Homo sapiens: one gene and its partners. The protein of the gene in region 1 purifies or fractionates together with the protein of each later gene. This does not show direct contact. Each region holds a gene or a part of one and is shown on either strand. Other genes may lie near its edges. The genes, in order: TANC2, ZBTB21, AGAP3, AGAP1, SRGAP2, KCTD3 and LIMD1.

Region 1 (3,500 bases):
CTTTAGACTCATTGCCTGCCACTTCTGTCTTCAAAGTGCTTTAGCGGTAGTAAACTGTGTGTGGTTCCTTCAGTATGTAGTATTCTCCTACCTTTTCATGCCTTTATGAAGTTCTTTTTTTCATGGACTACTCCTGCCCTCTCCTTTGTTCTCTGGGCAAACTGCTTCACAGCCATCATGCGTTAGCCCAATGTCTTCCGAGTGAAGAAGGTTTTGCTTACTCCTCCAGGTGGGCTTGGGCATGATGTTCTCTATCTATTCTCCCCTTGCACTTGGTGTATATAGTAGTTGCCGCATTTTTTTTTTTTTTTTTACACGGCGTCTCACTCTGTTGCCTAGGCTAGAGTGTAATGGCGGCCATCTTGACTCACTGCAACTTCTGTCTCCTGGGTTCAAGTGATTCTCCTGCCTCAGCCTCCTGAGTAGCTGGGATCACAGGCATGTGCCACCATGCCCAGCTAATTTTGTTATATTTTTAGCAGAGATGGGGTTTTGCCATGTTGGCCAGCCTGGTCTTGAACTTCTGACCTCGAATGATCGGCCCGTCTCAGCCTCCCAGAGTGCTGGGATTACGGGCATGAGCCACCATACCCGGCCGTAACATATTTTAAATATTTAATATGACTGGTTCATCACTAATGTGTGAGCTTTTAAGCAGGCACTGTGACTTTTCATCTTTTCAGCATCAGTATAGTTAGTACATAGTAGGTGCTCATTATCTACTTATTGAGTGAGGATTGTTGACCGTTATCTCAGTTATGCCTTTGAAACCTCATCTCTTATTGTGGAATTAGAGGAAACTTTAGGCACCAGGAGGTAGGTTTAGAGAAATATACACACCATCTAAAATATTACTCAGAGTAAGTCCTGGACTGTAACTAAAACTAACCCTAAAGATAAACCAGATTTTGTTCTTTTTTATGTTTGCTGGTGGCAAGAGGAAGATGAGAAGATTCTCTGAACTTTAGCCAAATGATTTTCTTTGTACAATGCAAGAGTTGCCAAACTATAGCCCATAGACCAAATCCAGCCCATTGTCTGTTTTTGTATGACCTGCAAACTAAGAATGGTTTTTACAATTTTAAGCAGTTGAAAAGATATCAAAGGAGGAATGATACTTCATGACATATGAAAATTAAAGGAGATTCAAATTTCATTGTCCATAAAGAAAGTTCCATTGGAACTTAGCCATATTCACTTATTTACATATTGGGTATTGGGTGCAGCAGCAGAGTTGACTACTAGTTGCTGTCGAGACCATACGGCCTGCAAAGCCTAAATATTTACTAGCTAGCTCTTTAGAGAATAAGTTTGTCAGTCCTTGGTCTGTTACATAGCCTGTGCCCATTAAGTGTTCGTTGAATATCATGAGTTGGAGATATACCAGCTACTTTTTTGAAGGGCTTCGCAGGGCATAATTCCTTCTATTTACTGAGAAGATTGGCCACTTTGCTTTTGTAATGATTTATCTCACAGGCCCCTGTTGTACCTCTCTGATGACACCCTTATTACATCTAACACTGAATAAGACTCTCACAAAGTGTGTTTCAAGATTCTATTCCTTTTTTTTTCTTTAAAAGGTGGAGAGGAGTTTGGAGAACAGCATGTAGTAGAATGTTTTTCTTCGCTCACATCTCAGTTTCTCATATACATTTTTTGCAATAAAAGATCATTGTTATATTTTTAAAAACCTTGATTTTGTATATTAGTTTGTTAGGCAGACACCTTGTGTGTAAAGTTTAAAAGTTGAGGTGGATTAGTTATGTTGGAAAAACTGGGGTATTTTTATGGAGTGTATTAACATATTCATTCATTTAAATATTTATTGACTACTATGTATAAGTTGTTAATTTTACTACTATTGTCTTTGACTTGGGGATGGAAATTTCATATTCTTCCTTAAAAGCTAAAATTGTAATTCAGAATCCTGTGTCTTACATATTTTTTCTACCCCTGGGAAAAATATAGTTCAAAAACATATGTACCATACTATTAATATTTGCCACTTCCCTGAAGTTCAGTAAGCCAATGATGATAGATTTTACTGTTTTCTTTATGTGGCAAAGTGTTATGAAAAGGCAGTGATTGATATATTCCTTTTCGTAGATATCAGCCAATGTTACAGACATAAAATTCATAAAGAAAAGTACGTAAGCAATAATAGTGGAAAACTTGTCATTCCAAATGGATGATCTTTGGACCAGGTAGCCATTCTTATTTCCTTGTCTGTAATACCATGCTAGCATTATCATATGATGACGTAGCTGATTATAAAGATTGACAACATTAAGAAATATGGCCCCAGTTTTTTACTGCCATGGAAATCCCCTGGTTAATCCAGCCTTATAAGTAGATTATAGTTATTGAACTTGGAAACGAGAGTGGGTATATAGAGATTGTGATTTAGTCATTTTATGCTTGGAGAATGTGCTTCAAATCTCAGATCTCAGGCAATTCTGTCTGCCTAAATGAAGGTAGTCACTTCTTAGCCCTTTATTCCTAATCTTTCATTGGGTGGAGGAATCCCACAATTTCTAGTTGTGGTTGCTGAAATTTGGTAAGGCACAGCTAGTTAGGTTATAGGTTATAGAAACTTGATACATATTTATTGTACTCTGTAATTCTATTTCTGTTCAAATTCCATGGAATCCTCTAGGGCACCCTGGGATTGTGAATTAGTGTGAATGAATGTAAATAGCTTTAGTGGGCCTATGGAATGAAGACTTATTAAACCACATAAATAACCGTCCAACCACATACACCCATATTCTGCCTCAGGATCAGAGAATCAGCTTTTCCATTTTCGGGCTTTTTTTTTTAATTTTTTTTTTTTTTTAATGTAGAGACAGACTTTGTTTGAAAGCTGTTATTCAGACATTCCTATATTATAGGATGACAGTACTGTTGCTCAGTTGTAAGTTTAGAAATTCCAATGATGAGACCAGTATATATTGGAAAGAATATGACTTTATGAGTTTTGAATCATGAAAATGGGTTTGAATTACTGCTCTGTCACTAATTGTATGAGGGGCCAAAAATCTATCTCACAGGGTTTTTATGATGATGAAATGAAAAATATCTTGGTGAAAATCCTTAGGACGATGTCTAGTACTTAATAAATGGTAATTTTTATTAGCCTGTGGAAAGTATCCTAAATTTTTCTTTTTTGATATATGCCAGCTCCTCCCAATTTTTTACTGGCATTGTCACTCCAGCTTTTCTTTGTTATCTTGTCTTGATTTCCTTTTCAGCCTTGCAAGGCATTTTAGAAACCCATGGTAGTTTGGATACTGATTTATTTTATTCATATCCTTAAATTTTCTTTTGTGAAGTATTTGATAAAAGCTGAGAGAAAGAGTTTTTGAATAACTGTAAACCGAAAAACTCAGATACTGCTGGGCCTACTCTTTTTATGCATTTTTTTTGGACTATTTCTTTTGAACACTACTAACTTGACAAAAATTAATTTTAATCCTTTCTATAAAATCTCAAATCATAGT
Region 2 (3,500 bases), on another chromosome or scaffold:
TATTTGGGAACTGATCCCAGGAAGCACAAGAAAGGAAGTAGGGACAGTAAGGCGGAGATGGAGGCTCATAAAGGGTACATTGATGAACAGGTTGCTGCTCACGTGTAGGATATCAAAACTGAATTCTTTAAAAAATCTGAACTCCTGGTTTTTCTGTCAAACCCCATCTCTCCTAAGGATGCCCTTCCAGTTATTTTGGCAGAATACTTAACTCCACACCTTCTGTTTTCTCCTGCAGTCTGTCCACTAGAAATTCTAATGACTCTGCCTTTACCTCCGTTGCTACCACCCTGGTCCCAGCCACCATCCTCTCTCATCTGGGTCATTACAGTGGACTGCAAGCTGGCCCGCAGCTTCCCCCATAACCTACCCTCTGTTGTCTAATCTCAACAACAGAGCCAGAGCAATCCTTTGGAAATGTAATTCAGGTCTTTGTCATTCCTCTGCTCAGAATCTTCAATGGCTGTCCATTTCATCCATAGTAAAAAATAAAGTTCTTCTGGAGGTCTCCCAGCCCTAGACGGTCTTACTTCTTATTGCCTCTCAGATGTCATCTTACATGGCTCCCAGCACACACTGCTCCATCCCTCCTGTTGCCTTAGCTTCTCCCTTTGTTGTGATGTTCTTCCTCCATTTATCTCCATGGCTCATCCCTCGCCTCCTTCACACCTTCTTTGATCCCATTTTGATGAATGAATGACATGAGAAGTTTCTGGTATAGTTTGTAGTGTAGGTTCCTGTACAGTTAGGTGCTATATAAATGGTAGCGACTATTATTATCTTATTTAATTCCCACAATAGCATTATGTGGTAGCTGCTAGTATTATCCTTATTTTATGGCGAGGTAAACTGAGGCTCAAAGAGGTTGGTTAGCCTAGAACAGTGGCTCTCAAAATATTTTGACTGACCCACAGGAAGGAATACATTTTACATCTCAATCCAGTCCATGCTTGCTTATGTGGGTATGTACATATATATAATAGAAACAAAAGTTTCTCAAGCTCATAATTAGCCTTATGACATTTGATGCATTCTGATATTTTCTACTCTGTCCTAGTCATTTATTTTTTAATTGCTAGTTTTAAACCACCAAGTTGAGTTTAAGAACCCCTTTTGACAAAGACTATCCAAGCCTTTAAATCTGTACCTTTAATTCTGTGTTACAGCTTTTCCCTGTGGCAACATCTGAACTAGCTTTGTCAAAAATTATTAGTGCTAAAAACTCCTCAGTACCCAGCTGAGTCAATACGTGTAACATTATAAGCTTATGTCTTTTTCTGCTGATCTCTGTAAAAGATGGTAAGGGTTTCTTCATACAAATAGATGTAAAGAAAGTATAGTAGGATTAAGGAAAATTTAAATGACTAAGAGAAGAAAAAGGAAGGGAAATTATCAAGTAGTCACAAATAGAATAATTTTTTAAAAAAATAGAGGAATTAAAATTTACCATTTACTTTGAAAGGATGGTAGGCGGGAGTGGACAGAAACTTGGTACAGTCTGACCAAAGTAGTTGTTTGTGGACAGGCTAAAGGCATCATCTCTAGAAGCAAAGTCCTGTGTCTCAGTCGGTTAAATTGAGTCGCATCTTATCAGGGAGTCAGAAGGAATTGTATACCGTGTGTGGCCACTCCCAGGTTGACAGCCTAGGAGACTCTGGGCTCTTCCTGAAGAGCCTGGTGGCTGGGGTAACCAGCAAAGGCCAGAAGAGAACCTACAAATGAGCTGGGGTCAAGTTTGGTTCATCTACAGTTTGCCCGCTAGAGAAAGATAAAACCGTCACAGATAGTTACTTGGGATTCATGTAATCTTAAAAATAAATGTCTTAACAATATTTGAAAGAAAATATGGCATTATAAAATGAAAGGGATGAGCCAGCTGTGGTGGCTCACACCTGTAATCCCAGCACTTTGGGAGGCCGAGGCAGGCAGATCACGTGAGGTCAGGAGTTCGGGACCAGTCTGGCTAATATGGTGAAACCCCAACTATATAAAAATACAAAAATTAGCTGGGCGTGGTGGTGCACGCCTGTAATCCCAGCTACTCAGGAGGCTGAGGCAGGAGAATCGTTTGAACCCAGGAGGCAGAGGTTGCAGGGAGCCAAGACTGAGTCATTGCACTCCAGCCTGGGCAACAGAGCGAGACCCTGTCTAGAAAAAAAAAAAAAAAATGAAAAGGATGAGGTGTTAGAGGAACAGAAGCCTAAATAAAGGGTCAAATACACAGAGTCAGGCATTGTCTCTGCATGAAATGGCTTTGTCTGCATCGAGAGTATGGTGGGGTTAATCTGCCCACTTTCTTTGATACTGAATTAGATGCCTATTAATCCTGCAATTTCTGAAAGTTAAGTGCACATTTGTTGAGTTTTCTTTAGATGAACTCTTTGCAACAACCCTGCAAGAGGAGGGCACAGTTGTCATTCCTAACTCAGGTGAGGGATCTGCCACACCGAGAGGCTAACAGAAACACCCAAGGACAATCAGCCAGCCTGCAAGGAACTGGCATCTCAACCCAAGTGTCTGGCACCAGAGCTTGCACTCTACCACTAGGCCTCCTCTTCTCATGTTTAGATTTGAAGAGCATTTCAGTGAAATATCAGTTTAAACTCTTTAATTAAATTTAGAACTAGGCTAAAGTTTCCTTTGTGCTATTGTTGAAAATGTGATTTGGTAAGAAAATAGTATTCATGAGATTGCAAGGCAAATAGCATAAGAAAGAAAACAAACTTATTCTTCAACACTTCTAATCTTTTTTTTGTTTTTTTGTTTTTTTGTTTTTTTTTTTTTTGAGACAACGTCTTGCTCTGTCAACCAGGCTGGAGTGCAGTGGCGCAATCTTGGCTCACTACAACCTCCACTTCCCAGGCTTAAGTGATTGTCATGCTTCAGCCTCCTGAGTAGCTGGGATTACAGGCACATGCCACCACCCTCGGCTAATTTTTGTATTTTTAGTAGAGATGGAATTTCACCATGTTGGCCAGGCTTGTCTCGAACTCCTGACCTCAAGTGACCTGCCCGCTTTGGCCTCCCAAAGTGCTGGGATTACAAGCGTGAGCCACCGTGCCTGGCGTAAACACTTTCATTAGTAATTAGCAAATAATTTTTTGCTTTCCAAATTCTTTTCTATTTTTAAAGGTCTCTTGGCCAGGCTCAGTGGTTCATGCCTGTAATCCCAACACTTGGGGAGGCTGAAGCAGGAGGATCTCTTGAGCCCACGAGTTGGAGACCAGCCTGAGCAACATAGTGAGGCCCCATTTCTAAAAATAAAAAATAAAAAAAATTACCCAGGTGTAATTAGTCCATTTTCACAATGCTAATAAAGACATACCTGAGACTGGGTAACTAACAAAGAAAAAGAGGTTCAGTGGACTCACAGGTCCATGTGACTGGGGAGGCTGTGTAATTATGGCAGAAGGCAAGGAGTGCAGGGCACATCTCACATGGTGGCAGGGAAGAGAGAACTTGTGCAGGGGAACTCCTCGTTATGAAACCATCAGCTCTCC
Region 3 (3,500 bases), on another chromosome or scaffold:
GTTAGGGCCCACCGCTGTGCCTGGAGCCCTTTCTCGAGCTTGCTGGTTGGGACTGGGAGAGGTGGTATGTCCAGGGAGAAGGGTCTACTTGAGTTCACCTGCCCTGCATGGGAGTTTGCCAGGTCCAGTTGCGGGTGCTAATTTTACTTGCTCTACCCTAGTTTGCTGCCTGGGTGGATGCAGTGGTGTTTGTGTTCAGCCTGGAGGATGAAATCAGTTTCCAGACGGTGTACAACTACTTCCTGCGTCTCTGCAGCTTCCGCAACGCCAGCGAGGTGCCCATGGTGCTTGTGGGCACGCAGGGTGAGGCGGGGCCCTGCAGGAGCTGGCAGAGAGCAGGAAGTCCCGGGCAACGATGCATGGGGGCAGGGGTGGGCAGGTGTGAGAAAGCCCCCAAGCCCCTACTCTTTTCCCAGTGCTGACTGGGACCCTCAGCACTCTCCGTGCTGCTCGTGTCTGAGGGCTTTTGCCCCCACTGAAACCTGCTGTCCCTGTGACTAGCAGGTCTGTGTTTTTTTAGATGAATAAACGTGCTCAGAGCTTAAGTGCTTGCTGGTTTGCACTCAGTGAGGCCATGGAAGGGTTGAAATGAGACCCAGGCACCCGCGTTCTTGGTGCTCTGTGTGTTCCACTCACCAGGCCCTTTGCACACCTGCCCTTGGGCCAAATGCCCCCCACCACACTACCCCAGCTTCTCCGAAAGCTGAATGACTCCCGCCCTCCCACCTCCAACAGATGCCATCAGCGCTGCGAATCCCCGGGTTATCGACGACAGCAGAGCCCGCAAGCTCTCCACAGATCTGAAGCGGTGCACCTACTATGAGACGTGCGCGACCTACGGGCTCAATGTGGAGCGTGTCTTCCAGGACGGTAACTCGGGTGCCGGGTGGGAGTCACTGGCAGCCGCGGCCCCAGTGCTGGCGATAGGAAGGCTCCCAGTGAGAGCAAGGCTGTGTGTCTGGGGGGAGGTGCTAAGCCAGGCTTTTCCCTTCTCTCCAGTGGGTATAATTGACTCTGCTGTCCCCTGCAGTGGCCCAGAAGGTAGTGGCCTTGCGAAAGAAGCAGCAACTGGCCATCGGGCCCTGCAAGTCACTGCCCAACTCGCCCAGCCACTCGGCCGTGTCCGCCGCCTCCATCCCGGCCGTGCACATCAACCAGGTTCGGCCTGTGCCCCGCCCTGCCCTTCCTGTCCCCACCATGTCTGTCTTGCCTCTGTGCGTCCTGCCACTTCTGCTGGCCTCCTGCTCACACCTGTCCACCTTCCTCTGGCCTCCCAGCCTTGCATGTTGCTTGGAAACATTGGTTGGAATTCCATTTAGCCGGCACCGTAGCCTTGGCCTCATCCCTGCCCCACGGTGCCTGCCCCTTCCCGCTGCAATCCCCACTTCTCTCTGCTCTCCACCATTCCACAGCCTGCATTCCCTACCCCGATGCCCTCTGCTGAAAGTCCTGGGCCATCCACAGGTGGCATGGTCAAGGCAGCAGCCACTGCACTTTACCTCTGCCAATGACCGTCATCTCTCCAAGGCCTGCCCTGGCTGCAGCTGGTATTCCAGTGACAGCCTGGTTGCATTTCAGAGACCCTTCCCTTCAGGGCTGTGAGAAGGCGGCAGCGTTCCCATGTGGGAAAAAGGAGGAGGAGGGCTGTGTCCTTCTTACTGTCTCTGAGCAGCCCCGCCCGACACCGACGGAGTGGGGCTTGCGCAGCTCACTTCTGCAGTGGTCCCTGTCCCGAGGGGCAGGTTGTGGAGGGGCAGTGGTCCAAGCACCTCTTGTACAGGTTAGGGTTCAAGGGAGGCAGCCGGGTAGGCCACACGCTCTAGTGAGGGCAGTTGCGGTGCAGACCACCTGGTTGTGCCGTGCATGCTTCCCGAGTCCTGGAGGAGCTGCCCTACTGTTTCTTCTCCATTCTGTGATCTCTGTCTTTTTCTCTTTCTTTCCCTTCTCTGTTCCACATCCACACCTTACTCTGATTGGGAGTCATAGCTCTGTTCTCTCTGCCCCAGCTGTCCCGGAATCCCTTTCCCTGCCATGGGCATGCTAGAAACATGCTGCAGTGCCCTGGGCCACCTCCGGCTCCCGCCTCCTGGCCTCCTGCACTCTAAACATACATACCTGAATGTGAGAGTTTGTCCGGGGTGACCCTCTACCTCCTTCCAGACCACCTGCAGGTCAGGACTCCAGTCTGTTCACTGCCAGGCCCTGCAGCTGATTCCCACCTACCAGCCTGTGCCTCTGACTTAGCTCCCTGGTTGGCCAGAAGCACTCCTGCCGGGGCCCCAGGACGAGGGTTTGCTGCCCTAGTGGGGCAGCCCTGGCAAGGTGACAGTAGATCCTGCTGGCCTCCAGGCCAGGTGAATGTTCCCCCCATATCATCTGTAGGGGCTAGTGGCCCCTCTGCTGCCCATGAGCCCCGGCCAGGCCCCCATTAGCACAGGGATTCCCGGCACCCGCCTGGTGCCCGTCCCGCCCCTGACCCGGAGCTGCCCTCAGCAGCCCTCTTTGTCCTTAGGCCACGAATGGCGGCGGCAGCGCCTTCAGCGACTACTCGTCCTCAGTCCCCTCCACCCCCAGCATCAGCCAGCGGGAGCTGCGCATCGAGACCATCGCTGCCTCCTCCACCCCCACACCCATCCGAAAGCAGTCCAAGCGGCGCTCCAACATCTTCACGGTACGTGACTGCCCTCCTCCCCCGCCCAGCTGCCTTTGCTGCACAGGCAGGGCTGAGCGCCGAGCTCCCAGCCAGGAGGGGCGTGGGCAGCCCCAAGTCAGGAAGACGGTACCTGCAGTCTCTCCCTCAGATACACACGGCTCCCGAGGGTCCTTGCCGGTGCCCTCAGAGTCTTCCAGACTGTTCTCTGCACCCACAAGGGGTTTCCAGTAGCGGCCCTTACCCTGTCCCCACAGTCCTCCCTGCCCTCTGCCGCACACACTCACCCTCCCCGCCGCCTTCCTCTCTCCTAGGCCCCTTTAGGGTGTCTGTGAGCTTGAAAGTATCCTTGGACTCACTTGGCCTAACTCCCCTGACCCCCTTTGATTCAACAGCTAATGAACCGGCGGCCGGAAGGCTGTTTGCCCAAGGCGACACAGAGGGTTAGCTGGCCCAGCTAGAGTCAGAGCCCAGGCCTCCCCGTCGCCTTCCGGCTCTTTTTCCGTTACCCCACTGCCGAGGGGAAAATTCATGCTTTCCACCCACCGCTGTGATTGGTTTAACAAAGGCTTAGCCATCTTTTCCTGGGCTTCACCACGCTGCCTCGTTCCTCCCTCTCAGGTTTGTCCTGTCTCCTTGTGAGCTCCTCACTCACCCCTCACAAACCTCACACCCCACACCTGGGGGCTGTTGTGCTGGCCCGGCTGAGGGTGGCCTCTGGCTCTCAGGCCCCAGGGCCTGCTGTCTCTCCACTCCCAATGTGCGACACACAGTGCCCATCCAAACCCTAATCCTCCAGCCGGGCTTGGCTGGATGTTCCAGGAGTCTTGGGCCAGACAAAGGTGGGTGA
Region 4 (3,500 bases), on another chromosome or scaffold:
TCCCTGTCTGAAAACGTGGGAATTGATGCCTCTCCCACGGTAACAGGTCCTCTGCCATAAAAGAACAGAACCTTCCCGCGTTCCTCTATCCATGGAGTGTCTGTGGATCTACGCGAGTGCTTAGATAGAAATTAACCCTGCAGCCGGAGATTAGCGGCCCTAACTTAATTTTCGTCCCACAGATAAGGATGGTCAGCCATGAGTTACATGGTTATTCTCCTAAGTTGCTTTGTGTGTGCACCACACAGAGACGCTGACATCACTCGTTGATTTCATCTGGCCTTGTGCCCTGAGCCTTGATTGAAACCTGGCTAAGTCATGCTGGCCTTAGGAACCACATCTGGACTGTTGGGAGGTGCATGGATTCAAATCTCCGCCGCCGTGGTTGTCCAGTGCCGTGCGCCTCACCGGTCCATGCAGGGGCAGCTGAACCCAGAGGCGCTTCTGTGACAGAGGGCCCGCAGGGGGACTGCTGTCTCATAAAAGCTAAACTCTTCATCCCACACTCTGTGTTTCAGAACAAGAAGAAAATTTTGAGTTTATCATTGTGTCCCTCACTGGCCAAACATGGCACTTTGAAGCCACGACGTATGAGGAGCGGGACGCCTGGGTCCAAGCCATCGAGAGCCAGATCCTGGCCAGCCTGCAGTCGTGCGAGAGCAGCAAGAACAAGGTGAGGCCCCTGGCTGCCCAAAACCAAGGCTGGGGCTGCTCAGGGGGAGTGCGGGCCCCAAGTAATGCCCCAGGGAGGAGAAAATAGAGGACCAGTGTGAATGACAGGACCTAGCTATTCTTTATGAGCAGAAAGCTCAATAACTAAAACGATCAGAAGCACTTTGTGTCTATACCATCATACATGAGTATTCCAGCCTGACCGTGCTTCCCTGGCAGGAGAGCCAAGGTTAAATCTTCAGTCTGTCAGCCAATCCCAGAGGGAATCTTTTGGACTCTTGTGGCTTCTGGGTCCACATTTATTTTTGTTTTGGACAGAATACACTCAGAAAAAAAGAGAGACGGACTTAAAAGATGCACTGTTCAAGTAAATGCCCAGAATTCAAATCGACATCAAGTTGGAAAACCGTCTCTTGTTAGGGACATAAATGAAAAGTAGATGGGTCTGTATGAGCGTGCAGGGAGTTTGGGAAGATAAAGTTTCTATTATCTAAACTGATAAAGCCTGGTATGTGTTTTATTCAATAATTAGAGGTGGTGGTGCAGCTCTTTTAGAATTTGTCCAGCAGGTTTTCTGGTTCTCACCAGAAAACGCCACCCCCAAATGTTTCTATATTAAAAAAATAATGAGAGGCAATTTGTTTTTTGTAGTTACTTAGCTAGAAAAGGAAAAATATTTTAACCTGTATTTTTTTTTCCTTTGGAGAGAGTCTATCTCTGTCACCTAGGCTGGAGTACAGTGGCACAATCTTAGCTCACTGCAACCTCCAAGCTCAAGCAATCCTCCCACCTCAGCCTCCTGAGTTGCTGGGACTACAGGCCTGGCTTGCTTGCTTATTTATTTGTATATTTATTTATGTAATATATATTATTTGTGGAGGTGGGGTTTCATCACGTTGCCCAGGCTGGTCTCAAACTCTTGGGCTCAAGCGATCCACCTGCCTCAGACACCCAGAGTCCTGGGATTACAGGCATGAGCTACCACGCCTGGCTTAACCTGTGTTCTCTAGGCTACTGCCCAGTGATGTTCCTTCTACAAAAGTCCTTTTTCCCATCAAGGATTGCTTCAGTTTCATTATTTTAATGTTTGTTTGTCTTTAACCTCTTTGCTGGGACGTCTTAGACTTTTGGAGAGCATTTTGATATTTCAGACTATGATCAACTAGAAACTAAGAGAAAGGATGTTACCCACCGACCTGCAGTTTCATTTGTAACCATTTAAAGAAATTTCTGCCTATGATTTATGTGCAGCTTTGTCACTAAAAAGAGAGTCTGTCTTTCAGAAAGATGAAGTGTCTTATTTTATTACCCTCTTTAACCAGGGTAAACCAGACCACAGTCATTATTATTATAATGTAATTTGCTTCCCTTTTTAAAAGATGTTTTATACTCAAGGTGGGGAGAACCACTGCCTTTCATTCCATACACCCTGGCTTTACTGGGTCACGTCCACATGCATCCATGATGTGCCTCCTGAAACGAGCACAGGGTGCTTTGGGGCCACCTCAATGGGAAGCAACAGCACACAGCATCCTCCAAGCGTGGGCAGCTCATTCTGAGAAGGAAGGCAGGGAGGCAGGCTGTGTTACCGAACAGAGAGGCACAGGTTCCTGCCTTCATGGAGAAATCACAGTCTTTCACGGCAGACTCTGAGCCCCTGCCACCTCGACCTAATTCAGGAAGATCTGGGATGGTGGCAGCCTTTCCCATTCCACACCTTGCCAGGCTCCTCCTGACTCGTGTCTCAGCTCATGCACACACCAGCCTTAGAATGCTGCCCTCGGCCCTCACTAGGCGCCTGTTCTCCAGGGAATTGCTCCCTTGGGAGGAGGACGCGTTGAGCAACCAAAGGTGGCCGACTCAGAGCTGGTCATCGTGGGCATTGGTTGAACAGGTGTGAGGGCATAAAACATGGAAATACTGTCCACAAGGAGTAGCGGGAGGCAAAAATACAGGCCCAGTTGACCACCAGCTTTATAGTATTTTACCTGCCAGTGGATAATTGAGAGCTGATACAGGTATAGGCATAGCTAGACAGACAGACAAACCAACCAACCACAGAAATGATACAGGTACACAGAGAGACAGAGGCACATCCCTTTGTATGTGTGTGTGTGTGTGTGTGTGTGTGTGTGATCACACACTTGCATTCCAGATGCCAGTGTAAACTGTTTAAACATATTTTGAATACTTGGGTATCTAACCAAAGGGAATTAAAATTCAATAACGCATGATGCTAATTAGACAGTAGTGATTAATACATTATAATTTATTATGTAGCAAGTAATATATTATTTCACATCAATTTGATGAGATGTTTCAATTTATGAAGAATTCTTACGCAAAAATCAAGCTTATTGTAACTGTCCTCTGAAATTGATCAATTTTTGCTTTAACCATAATATTAAATGCATACTTAATAAATAAGCCTCAAAAACACTACATATCAGCCAGACACGATGGTTCACGCCTGTACTCCTAGTGCTTTGGGAGGCTAAGGTGGGAGGATCACTTGAGGCAAGGAGTTCGAGACCAGCCTGGCCAACATAGGGAGACCATTGTCTCTACAAAAAAATTTTTAAATAGCCAGGTGCATGGTTCACACCTGTAGTTCCAGCTACTCAGGAGGCTGAGGTGGGAGGACCACTTGAGCCCAGGAGATGGAGGCTGCAGTGAGCTATGATTGCACTACTCCAGCCTGGGCAACAGAGCAAGACCCTCTCTCTAGGTGGGGAAAAAGGTACATATCCAGTACATATCCTTTCACTTAGAACTTCTACTTCCAGGAATCTATTCTTAGTAAATAATCATGAGTGTGTACCAAGACT
Region 5 (3,198 bases), on another chromosome or scaffold:
TGAGCCCATGTCCTCAGGACTGCCTTACCAGATTTCACAGTGACCTGATAATGAAAACCTGTCTCTGGCTAACCTAAGAACGGTACGGACTGCAGCTGGCTGAATTACGACGACTGGGGGAAGCAGAGGGCAGTGGGAAGGGAGAGGCGATACCAAGGGCTTCATTCTCAAGGTTTTGGGAGACGGGGAGGCTAATTCCTGCAAGAACAACTTAGAACCTAATTTTCAACTGAAGTCCCCAAGCTAGTTAAATAGGAAGATTTTAATAACAGTCAGTCCCTATAGTCCCCTTGTCTAGAACAATTAAATTATTATCCCTCAGACAGTACAAGACTTGTCAGTAGACTGTGGGGAAGTTGATGAGTTGACACCAGGGCTAGTGGCATTTGTTTTGGGGAAGACAGTGGGCTTGGGCCGTGTGGCTGGTGGTTTGACCGGGGCAGCCATCTTGACAGACTTGACAGGCCGGAAGGCGCAGGCGATGTCCCCAGCAGTACTGGCGCTGCGCTGGAAGGCGGGCTCGGGGTCCTTGAGGAGCTGGGTGTGCAGAGGGCTGGAGGGCTCTGACGTGGGGGCCACCACTGGGGAGGTTTTGAGGGGCTCCAAGGTGTCCAGAACCACGTCAGGGGTGTGTTTGACACTGCTCTGCCGTTCTAGTTCCCGTAGCTCATTCAGGGCCGAGTTCATTGTTGCCTCAATATCCTGCAAAACAGGAAAAAGGAGGAGGTGAGGCAAATGAGGGGAGAATTCCCCAAGGAGCCGGTTTCAACAACACAGGCCAAGGCATGAAGAAAATGACCGTAAGATGTCCAGATTATTGTACTTGGCCTAAATCTTTGAACATATGAATGCTCAGGAAGTAGGGAAAGGGGGACGGAGGGATTTTCACTGTCATGAGATTTTTTTTTTTCCTTTAGAAAAAGTAATTGATATTTTTTTAGAGACCCTAGGTTTTAGAGATAGATATTGAAATACTTATCGACGAAGTGACATATAATCTAGTGGGGAAGAGAAACACGGACAAAGTAAGAATGGCCAGGAGTTTGGTGATGAGTACATGGGGATTTGTTATCCAGTTCTGTCTGCTTTTGGGTAGGTTTGAAATTGTACATAATAAACACTTTTTTAAAAAGTGGTAGAGATGATGTATGATCTTTATTCTCTTGGACTTCAAGGCCAAAGGTGAAGAGGGTTAGTCCTTCCTCCTCAGGGGCTGAGGAAAGTTTCAGGAGCCCAATACGCCTCCCCCCGCCCCTCCTCCCCAACTCAGGGCAGTGTCCAATTTGAAACCATTTCCTTCCAGCCATCACCACCAAGGGGACAAAAGAATGACCAGGAAGGGGAGCCAAAGCCCACATAGGTGAATCAATTGCCTGCAAATCAATGGAACACTCTAGATCTTTAGCCAACAGCAGTCCTAGCCCAGGGACTCAAGGCAGAACCAAAGAACCTTTGTATGCAAGCCAGCTGCCTTCCAGTGAGACTTCCCAGCTCCCCGCTCCCTCCCCATAAACCTGTGTCTGGCACCCCCAAACTACCACAGGATTTCTTCTTGGGATTAGGTTCACATGGAAAGATTTTACACATTCCAAGCGAAGGCCTTTGGTTAAGGTTTCTTTGTCGTACAGACCGATGCATGCTTTCTGTTCACAGTGATTCAGTTTCACTCATCCCTATGACATTCTCAAACCTTTAAAATGCTCAGGAAGAACTCCATCTCCCTCCTCAGTCGCACTCTACAGCTAGTCTGTCCCAGCTGTCTACCTTTCCTGACATTCCTATTAACACCTGGCCAAGGAGGGAGCTGGGAGGATTCCCGTAGCGCAAGGCAGATTGCAGCCAAGAGCTTAAATAGAGGCACAGAATAGAAGGCTAGCAAAGCAAGACATCTCAGGCCTGTAGCTCAATACTGGGCTTGCCAGGTACATCTCCGTAAGCAGAGAACCACAATTAAGCCAAGAGAGACCATGCCCAGCCTCTATCACCCCCTGGAAGATGGGGTAAGGAGAATCTCAACTCAGTTGAGATAAGAAGGCAACAATAAGCCCTTAGTTCCTACCTGGTCTAATGAAAATTATATAGTTGGGAGAGACGTCTGAGTGAACTGCTTGGAGTGGCCCCGGTAGTCGGATTTTTAGAGGTGGGGTTGGATCTCTAATATTTCATGGAAAACAGAGAGTCATCAGTGCGGTGCATACACAGAAGGAAGACCCTGCAACCAGGGAGCTCATCTCCATAGCCTCTGGAGGCTTGGGCTGCAAATCCTTTTGGTTACCAGAGCTCTCTGCAGCCAGAGTATTTTTTAGGTCTTTAAAACCAGGTGCAGGTTCTTAATTGATCATCTACCCATTCGGTACCAGAGACTAGCCTTAGGAATCGGGATGATGGTGATGGGCACAGCAATATAAACATGTGGCCAGGATTACACCTGATCCTCAACAGTCGGGCAGTTTCACTAAAGTCTACCAAGGTCTTTAGACTCAAAACTTGGGCTTTCAAAATACTCTTAATACCGGCTTTAAAAATTACAACAGCCTTCCTAATAGCCAGTGTATGAGCAAGAAGCTAGGCTTCTTTTATTCTGTCTTTAGGTTCTTCCTGGGGAGAGAGGGACAGGCAGACCACTTATTAAGCTGTCTTATTGGGTCCACATGTCCAGAGTGGACATATACTCAGTATATCACATACAAAATAATCATTCTGTTTCAAGTCCTGTCATAATTAGGTGGGTGGCACTAAGTGGTAGTGATGAATGTAGACTCATGCTGTCTGTCCAGGAGCCCACAGTTACCTGAGCAATGACCTCAGGGTCCATGGGCCGATGGTTATTGAAGCTTTTTGACCTTCCCGCTGTGGCAGTCTTCCGGATCTGTGGACTATCCAGCCGATTCTTCAGGGATGAGTGGCGGCTGATGGAGTTGAGGCTCCCGTGCCCACTGATGGAACACTTATCTGGCCCTTCTTTGGGGAGGCTCTGGCTCATGATGGGCTGGGAGGATGGGCGGCAGCTAGCCCCCACCCCTGGGGAGGAGGAGTCAGTCAGGGAACTGCTCAGCCCATGGCTGTCACTCCGAAAAGTTTTCCGGATGCTCCCAGATTCTGGACGCTTCCTTTGCCTTCAATCACAAACAGAAAGGGCAGTGTGATCAGGGAGCCCTGGCTCCAAGGAAGCTAGGATAAGTGGGAGGGGGCAGATGT
Region 6 (3,004 bases), on another chromosome or scaffold:
GTAGGTATAATGAAAAAATTAAGGCATAATGGGGGCAATCTGAGAAATTAGTGTCAGAGTAGACAGACATAAACCACTGCATCAAGGTTCAATCTCCTGTAAGCAAAAGAAAGAAACGATTTGACTTGTACTGTAATGCAATCTAGTATAGTCAGTTTCCTTTTTATGCGATTCTATTACATAATAGTTACTATCTTCTTTTTAATGGCCTTTTATTCCTGGTCACTAGAGTCTAGTTTTTTCTTTCATTTTCTTACTTGCCCACCCAACTTTCACATAACTGTCATAAAGAGGAAGAAGGGTGTAAGATAATTACAATCTTAGTAATTTTGAAATTATGCTTTGCCTAATATTTTCTTTCATTGATAATAACTTATTTTCCACATATATTAAGTTCTCCCTCCCCCCATTTTTTTTAAATTATGGGAAGAAGCAAAGAAATGAACAAACATATATAGCACACTTTAAACAGAACTGTTACTTAAATAACTGAAAACGCATTGACATAATCATTTTTATTTGATTTAATTGATAAATAAATACAAGAGAACTGTTGTGAAACCACTGGCAATATAGTAAATTTTAAAGATTTTATTTCAACTTCACTCACTTATATTTCTTGGAATGGGGATATATACATTATTCACCAATAAATGCTAATGCTTTAAATTTACAATTACCCTATTTGTAGAAACCTGAAGATCATTCCAATTAAATGAAAAAAAATTGTACAAAAACGTTCTTTTGCTCTTACAATTCAAAATACATTCAAATTCACATTCTTACAGCAGCCAAAACCTTTAACCCAAAATTCAGAACTGCAGTCCTACAAGTGAACAAACTAGTGTTTTAATTTAATTATCATGATTGTTGTTAACACTGAAAAAAAAACATGGTGGCTCCTGAAACAAGACAGGTTAGCAACTGGTACAGCTTTCCCTTCTGGGCACTCAAAGCTTTGCCCTTGATTATTATTTTTATTTCATCTTTTCAAACACAGACAATTGCTCCAACTTGAAAGTTTCAATGGAATTTTGGCATTTAATATTGCTAATGCTTGCTAAGATTTAAGATCTCCCAATGATGAGAATCAGAAAATGACGCACGACTAAATTAAAATCATCCTAAAAGACTTACTACATAGTGGTATCTGGTATTCAATATCAATAGTGTTTTTGAATTACATGATATGTTTTTCACAAACATAGCACCTCATCAAATATCTGGTAAACACTTTGCAATCACAATAAGTGTTGGGAGACCAAGTTCCAAAGACAATTATGTGATTCACTTAAAGGTAACATTGTAAGACAAGTCTCAGGCATAATGAAGATTAGGAATGCAGTCTGCTGGTTCCCATGATCTAAAGGGATGCTCACCTATATGGGCACCATCCTATTAAGACGTGGTAATATGTTTCCAAACCAAAAAAAGTCGGTAAGTGTTAAAATGGACTCCTGCTTTATAAATGATCTGTTAAATGTACTTGTAAAATTAAAAAAATTTCCAAAATGTCAAAAGAGATATGATTATTGTATCTCATTATTCCAAGTAATTCTGTTAAAAAGATACTAAATGAAGTCCAATTTTATCTTGTAAAGTTTTAGTGTAAAAACTAATGTACTGAAATTCAGTAAAGTTTAACTTTCATCTAAATGTAACGAAACAACTATTCATTTTGGTGAGTTTTCACAAGCTGTACTCCTGACCTGAAGAATCACTTTTTTTATGCCGAGGAGATGGAGTAGTCTTTGTAGGAGATGGGGACGCAGTACCAGGTGAGTCAGTTCCTCCATCGGAAGTACTTGGTGATGACGCCAGATAGGGAACTTTCTTTCTTCCAAGGAATCCTCCCCCTTCAAATCCTCCTTTCTTCCTAAACTCTATTTTATTTTCATTTTCATCTTCTGATGACCTTTTCTTGGATTCTGAAAAACCTTCAGCTATTTTATGCACTTCCAATCCACTATCCAATTCTCTCAAACTTTTTATTTCTACTCCAGGAGACTTTCTCTCAGATATATTACATTCCCCTGTTGCCCCTTTCACTTCAGCTTGTATTGGACCCAAGTTACCATTTTCAGGGACAGCTCTTTCTACATTTCTGTTCAAATTAATAGTCTGGAAGTCCCTATAACTGTGAAAGCTCTCAGTCCTTCTTGCCCTTGCTAATAAAGGACTTTCTCTGTAAGGCCTCATGGAACCGTAAGTAGCTGCTTCATGGGTGGTATCATGGTGCTGAAGCTGAAGGCTGAAATACAGTTTTTAAAAATGACAGTTCAGATTTCACTCTGTGATTTCTCAGGAACATATTAATTATACAACCAATAAAACACACTATATAAATACATAAAGTGTATTATATCCATATTTCTCTTTGTAAAAATATACTTATCAAGTACTCTTTATTATATAGATGGTATATAAAATTACCAATGCAAATAATACCATCATATATTCACAGACATGCTGAATTTTTGAACAGCTAAAAAAAAGATGGGAGGAAAAATCCTTGAAACCAATGTGAAACCATCATAATTCAGTATTTAGCCCTTGGTTCTTCAGACTTTGGAATTTATCAATATGATAACTAAAAAGACATTATGGAACTTTGTATTAAAATTACATAATGCTTAAATGTAAGACTAGACAACATAATAGAACCACAGATAAATATTGTCCCTGAGACAGGACAATAATTAAAGCTTCACATACTAACCAAGGTGACATGTAATTTTCCTAATTTCCTTTGAATAAATTCTTGATCACATAATAGGCTTCCAATTGGGCAGCAATTCACAAAATAAGTTAAAAGGTAAAAATGTTTTTCTATGAAAAGAACCAGATATGCCTATCAAGAAATTTGGTAAAACTGTTAAAAAGTTAACATAATGTCTGAATTTAAAATGTACCTTGAGAAGTATGGCTTTCTAGAACAACTATGTGATTACAATATTTCAGTCAATTTCCCCAAAAGAAATAAATTTTGTTTATAATACCCAAC
Region 7 (3,500 bases), on another chromosome or scaffold:
CCCCAAATCGCACACCTGCCTGACAATGTGGCCCGCAGATAGGACCTGAAACCCATGCTCTCCACGACCCTCCTAGCTCTGCAGCTTCAGGGAGAGCAGCTCCAACAGTTGCAGGACTTGATAGTTCTGAATATGCAGAAGAAAGACCTTTATACCTTGAGCATTTCCATCTTCTCCTACCTCCCCCAAGAACCAGCCTTCATTCCATTTCCTACAGAAGCTCTAGAGGGCTGACCCTTGCCAGAATCTTGTTGACTGCCTCTTGCCCCAGTCAACGCAGGATGCTTTTCTCTTGGATGTCTACAATGGGCTTTGGGGGCTGGGTGGGGAGGGGTCTACCTCGCAGTGGTAACACTCCACGTGGTAGTCTCTGTCCATGGACACGACACGGATGGTCTCATCTGAGCCCTGGGACCAGAGAAAAGCAAGAACACATAGGAGAGGCCTGTTAGGGGGGCTGTCGGGCTTGATGTACCGTGGGGTGGGGAGGGAAGAGGGTTTTGGGGGTAACAAGTAGGTGGCCTTGGGAGGAGAAGGTAAATCAGGAGTACTTACTGGAAGAAGAATACATTTAAGCTGATGAGAGGGGAAGTAGGAGGGATAGGAGTCCTTCCTTCTAGAATGTCAGAGTTAACACTGAAAGAAAGACCTACATGGACACTTATTTTAAAAAATGAAGAAAAGACAAGCCTTTCTCCTCATCTGCTAATCTAAGAATTAGTATCAAGTAAGGGAGTTTGACCTGGTTATGGGGACAAATCAGCACAAGAAGGGTACTGGGTTGGGGAAGCCAGTCAACAAGGAAGGGTGAAGACACGACTTATCTCAAAGGTGAAGTGGGGTTTTTTTTGGTTTTTTTTTTTTGGAGACAAGGTCTTGCTGTCACCTGCTGGAATGCAGTAGCACCATCATAGCTCGCTGCAGCCTCAAACTCTTGGGCTCAAGCAGCTAGGACTACAGGCACATGCCACCACACTTGGCCAATTTTTAACAATTTTTTGTAGAGATGAGGTCTTGCTATGTTGCCCAGGCTGTTCTTAAACTCCAGGCCTCAAGCAATTTTCCTGCCTGGGCCTCCTAAAAGGGGTGGGATTACAGGCGTGAGCCACTGCACCAGGCCAGAGTTGAGATTTTTAAAAGGATACCTTAAAAGCTGTAAGGACAGGACATGGATCTTGTAAATGAGCCCAGGGAGATATTCATGTCTTAGAAGCCCCTGGGAGCATGTCTGGAAGGGCATCTTACCTCAGGTGGAAGGATGGGAAGCCCACAGGCTGCACACTTGGGGGCCAGCACCCTGTGGGGAGAAACAAAGCAGCAATAAATGTTGCTTCTGGGAGCAAATTCCAGAGTCAGACTTGCACTTGGAATCCACATGGAGCCTTCCTCCATGCCGCCTCCTGCCCCTTGCTCTCCTCCCTCATAGAATGACTGGTACCTGGCTCACTTTGTGGAATATGCCTTAGTATTTGCTCCCCAGCTGCAATGAGGACACTGGCTGCCTCTCACTCTTCTGGGGACAGCACTAACTGATTTGTTTACACCTCTCATGGTGCCTAGCACAGGCCCAGGCAAACCAAGAGTGGTAGGAACCAGCACTGCATAGGGGCCTTGTGAAGTTAGGTAACGCTGAAGCCACAGGGCTTGGTGGATTCCTCCCGAGGCCTAGCTACAAATATGATTATTAGTTTTTCTGTGCTCTGTTGTTTTTTTTTTTTCACTAAACATGATTCTTTAACCCATTCCTGTCAACACTGGCATCGACCAACCTCCCAAGGTCCCTGCTGTACCCCTCAAAACCATTAAGCCTTTGCTGGACTGTGATCTAAGGGCGGCTGGCAAACACAGTTTTGTCGGTTTCCACCACTCACTCTGCTGAGATCAGCTTGGCCTACACGAATGGGTCCTGTCTGCTCCCATCCCTTCTTACTTGTGGTAATCTCGGACACAGTAGATCTTGTTCTCTGAGTCCACGGTGAAGGGCACCCCATCCAAACACTCATTACAGATGACACAGCGGAAACAGCCGGGGTGGTAGGACTTCCCCAGGGCTTGCAGGATCTGGAGCAGAGACCAAGACTCAGTGGGGATTATAGGGAAGGATGAGATGGTGGAAGGGGAGAGGAACACATCAGGCCTAAGGATTACATGAGCAGTCACACACAGAGTACACTTACCCCCGAGTTTCACCTAGGAGAAGAGCAAGAGGTGATGGGGTGGGAAAGGCAAATCTGTTTAGATGAATACACAGAAGAGACCACACAGGAATCCTTCTCCTGCAGCCTCTCACAGGGTCTCTGAGCTGGCAGGGAAAGAGGGCTCCTTTCCAACCCTCACCCAGAACAGGAAACTCTTGCATAGTTCTTTAAGAGAAAGAGATGGTAAGGAAGGGATGGGCCAATCCCAGGGCCAAAATCCACCACGAAGAAGTGGGAAACGATGCAAAGCAGGGCCACAGAAGGATACATCCTTCCCAGATTTGGGAAGCAGCAAGTACTCGGAAAAATGAAAAGAAATTCCATGTGGAAATGGCAGAGCTCAAAAGGAACCCCTTCACTTCTGCCTCTTGGATGCCCCTTCTATGCAGCTTTGACTCTGGAGCATGATAATCTAGAAGTTCTGACTCAACCCAATGACCTCAAATCCAAGTGTAATAAGTAAAGTTTCTCTGTTGTTGTTTTTAAACGCAATAGAGGGAAAGCCCCACAAACTTCTTCCTCTCAGTGTCATTTAATCTGGATCTGGATGGGATACCTGGAACTGCCAGAGCCAACCTGAAACCAGGACAGACCCAAGACATGGACAGCAGGAAAGAGAAGAGATGGAAAGAACATCCTTGGTGAGGTCCGTAAGTAACTGAATTAACTCATCATGGAACCACATACCTCCAAGCCTCTTTTTAGGTGAGATAAAATATCATTCCTATGAAGTCAGTGGTCCTCGAAATGTGTGTGGCCCCAGACCTTCAGCATTAGCATCACCTGCAAACTTGTTAATAATGCACATTCTTGGACCCCATCCCAGATTTCTTGAATCAGAAACTCTGGGGGTAAGGCCCAGCAGTTGGTATTTTAATAGGGTGATTCTGATATATATTAAAGTTGGAGGATCATTGGTTTAACTCGAACTGAGTCTGGGTTTTTTCTATAATTTGCAGTTGAAAGCATCTTCACTGACTTAATAGGAGATTCATTTCTGCAATTACCTGCATCATGAAACTTAGCAAAAACAACTGAACTACAGAATCAACATGAGCAAGGTCACACCAAAACATGCATCTGCAAAGAATGTACAGAACGGTCATCAGCATCCAGCAGTGGGAGCCCACACAGAAAGCCTTCAAACAGGCTGAAGAAAGGGGATTTTGGATTTGGGGAAGCCTTGTCAGTACACTGTGAGACCCAGGGGTAAAGATATGCTGTGTTACAGCTCCTTCCCCTGGAAGCCTCAGGCGGATAACTCCACACTGCACAAGCTCCAGCCAAGAAGGCAAGAGGAGG

The links.
Region 2: the proteins of TANC2 (region 1) and ZBTB21 purify together in Homo sapiens (affinity purification with mass spectrometry, with the first as the bait; one large-scale study listed by BioGRID). This does not show direct contact.
Region 3: the proteins of TANC2 (region 1) and AGAP3 purify together in Homo sapiens (affinity purification with mass spectrometry; one large-scale study listed by BioGRID and IntAct). This does not show direct contact.
Region 4: the proteins of TANC2 (region 1) and AGAP1 purify together in Homo sapiens (affinity purification with mass spectrometry; one large-scale study listed by BioGRID and IntAct). This does not show direct contact.
Region 5: the proteins of TANC2 (region 1) and SRGAP2 purify together in Homo sapiens (affinity purification with mass spectrometry, with the first as the bait; one large-scale study listed by BioGRID). This does not show direct contact.
Region 6: the proteins of TANC2 (region 1) and KCTD3 purify together in Homo sapiens (affinity purification with mass spectrometry, with the first as the bait; one large-scale study listed by BioGRID). This does not show direct contact.
Region 7: the proteins of TANC2 (region 1) and LIMD1 purify together in Homo sapiens (affinity purification with mass spectrometry; one large-scale study listed by BioGRID and IntAct). This does not show direct contact.

Annotation. Positions count from the first base shown.
Region 1 is NC_000017.11:62,972,735-62,976,234, forward strand, and holds part of TANC2 (protein TANC2), read left to right. Parts: intron 1-3,500. UniProt on the Homo sapiens protein: Scaffolding protein in the dendritic spines which acts as immobile postsynaptic posts able to recruit KIF1A-driven dense core vesicles to dendritic spines.
Region 2 is NC_000021.9:41,996,861-42,000,360, reverse strand, and holds part of ZBTB21 (zinc finger and BTB domain-containing protein 21), read left to right. Parts: intron 1-3,500. UniProt on the Homo sapiens protein: Acts as a transcription repressor.
Region 3 is NC_000007.14:151,117,475-151,120,974, forward strand, and holds part of AGAP3 (arf-GAP with GTPase, ANK repeat and PH domain-containing protein 3), read left to right. Parts: intron 1-161; coding exon 162-303; intron 304-735; coding exon 736-870; intron 871-999; coding exon of another isoform or gene 1,000-1,030; coding exon 1,031-1,158; intron 1,159-2,512; coding exon 2,513-2,671; intron 2,672-3,045; coding exon of another isoform or gene 3,046-3,111; exon of another isoform or gene 3,112-3,181; coding exon of another isoform or gene 3,182-3,271; intron 3,272-3,500. UniProt on the Homo sapiens protein: GTPase-activating protein for the ADP ribosylation factor family. GTPase which may be involved in the degradation of expanded polyglutamine proteins through the ubiquitin-proteasome pathway.
Region 4 is NC_000002.12:236,036,043-236,039,542, forward strand, and holds part of AGAP1 (arf-GAP with GTPase, ANK repeat and PH domain-containing protein 1), read left to right. Parts: intron 1-518; coding exon 519-673; intron 674-3,500. UniProt on the Homo sapiens protein: GTPase-activating protein for ARF1 and, to a lesser extent, ARF5. Directly and specifically regulates the adapter protein 3 (AP-3)-dependent trafficking of proteins in the endosomal-lysosomal system.
Region 5 is NC_000001.11:206,458,541-206,461,738, reverse strand, and holds part of SRGAP2 (SLIT-ROBO Rho GTPase-activating protein 2), read right to left. Parts: intron 3,117-3,198; coding exon 2,792-3,116; intron 2,155-2,791; coding exon of another isoform or gene 2,065-2,154; exon of another isoform or gene 2,060-2,064; intron 703-2,059; coding exon 319-702; 3' UTR 1-318. UniProt on the Homo sapiens protein: Postsynaptic RAC1 GTPase activating protein (GAP) that plays a key role in neuronal morphogenesis and migration mainly during development of the cerebral cortex. Regulates excitatory and inhibitory synapse maturation and density in cortical pyramidal neurons.
Region 6 is NC_000001.11:215,619,304-215,622,307, reverse strand, and holds the end of KCTD3 (BTB/POZ domain-containing protein KCTD3), read right to left. Parts: intron 2,252-3,004; coding exon 1,690-2,251; 3' UTR 501-1,689; downstream 1-500. UniProt on the Homo sapiens protein: Accessory subunit of potassium/sodium hyperpolarization-activated cyclic nucleotide-gated channel 3 (HCN3) up-regulating its cell-surface expression and current density without affecting its voltage dependence and kinetics.
Region 7 is NC_000003.12:45,671,251-45,674,750, reverse strand, and holds part of LIMD1 (LIM domain-containing protein 1), read right to left. Parts: intron 2,062-3,500; coding exon 1,931-2,061; intron 1,298-1,930; coding exon 1,246-1,297; intron 409-1,245; coding exon 340-408; intron 1-339. UniProt on the Homo sapiens protein: Adapter or scaffold protein which participates in the assembly of numerous protein complexes and is involved in several cellular processes such as cell fate determination, cytoskeletal organization, repression of gene transcription, cell-cell adhesion, cell differentiation, proliferation and migration.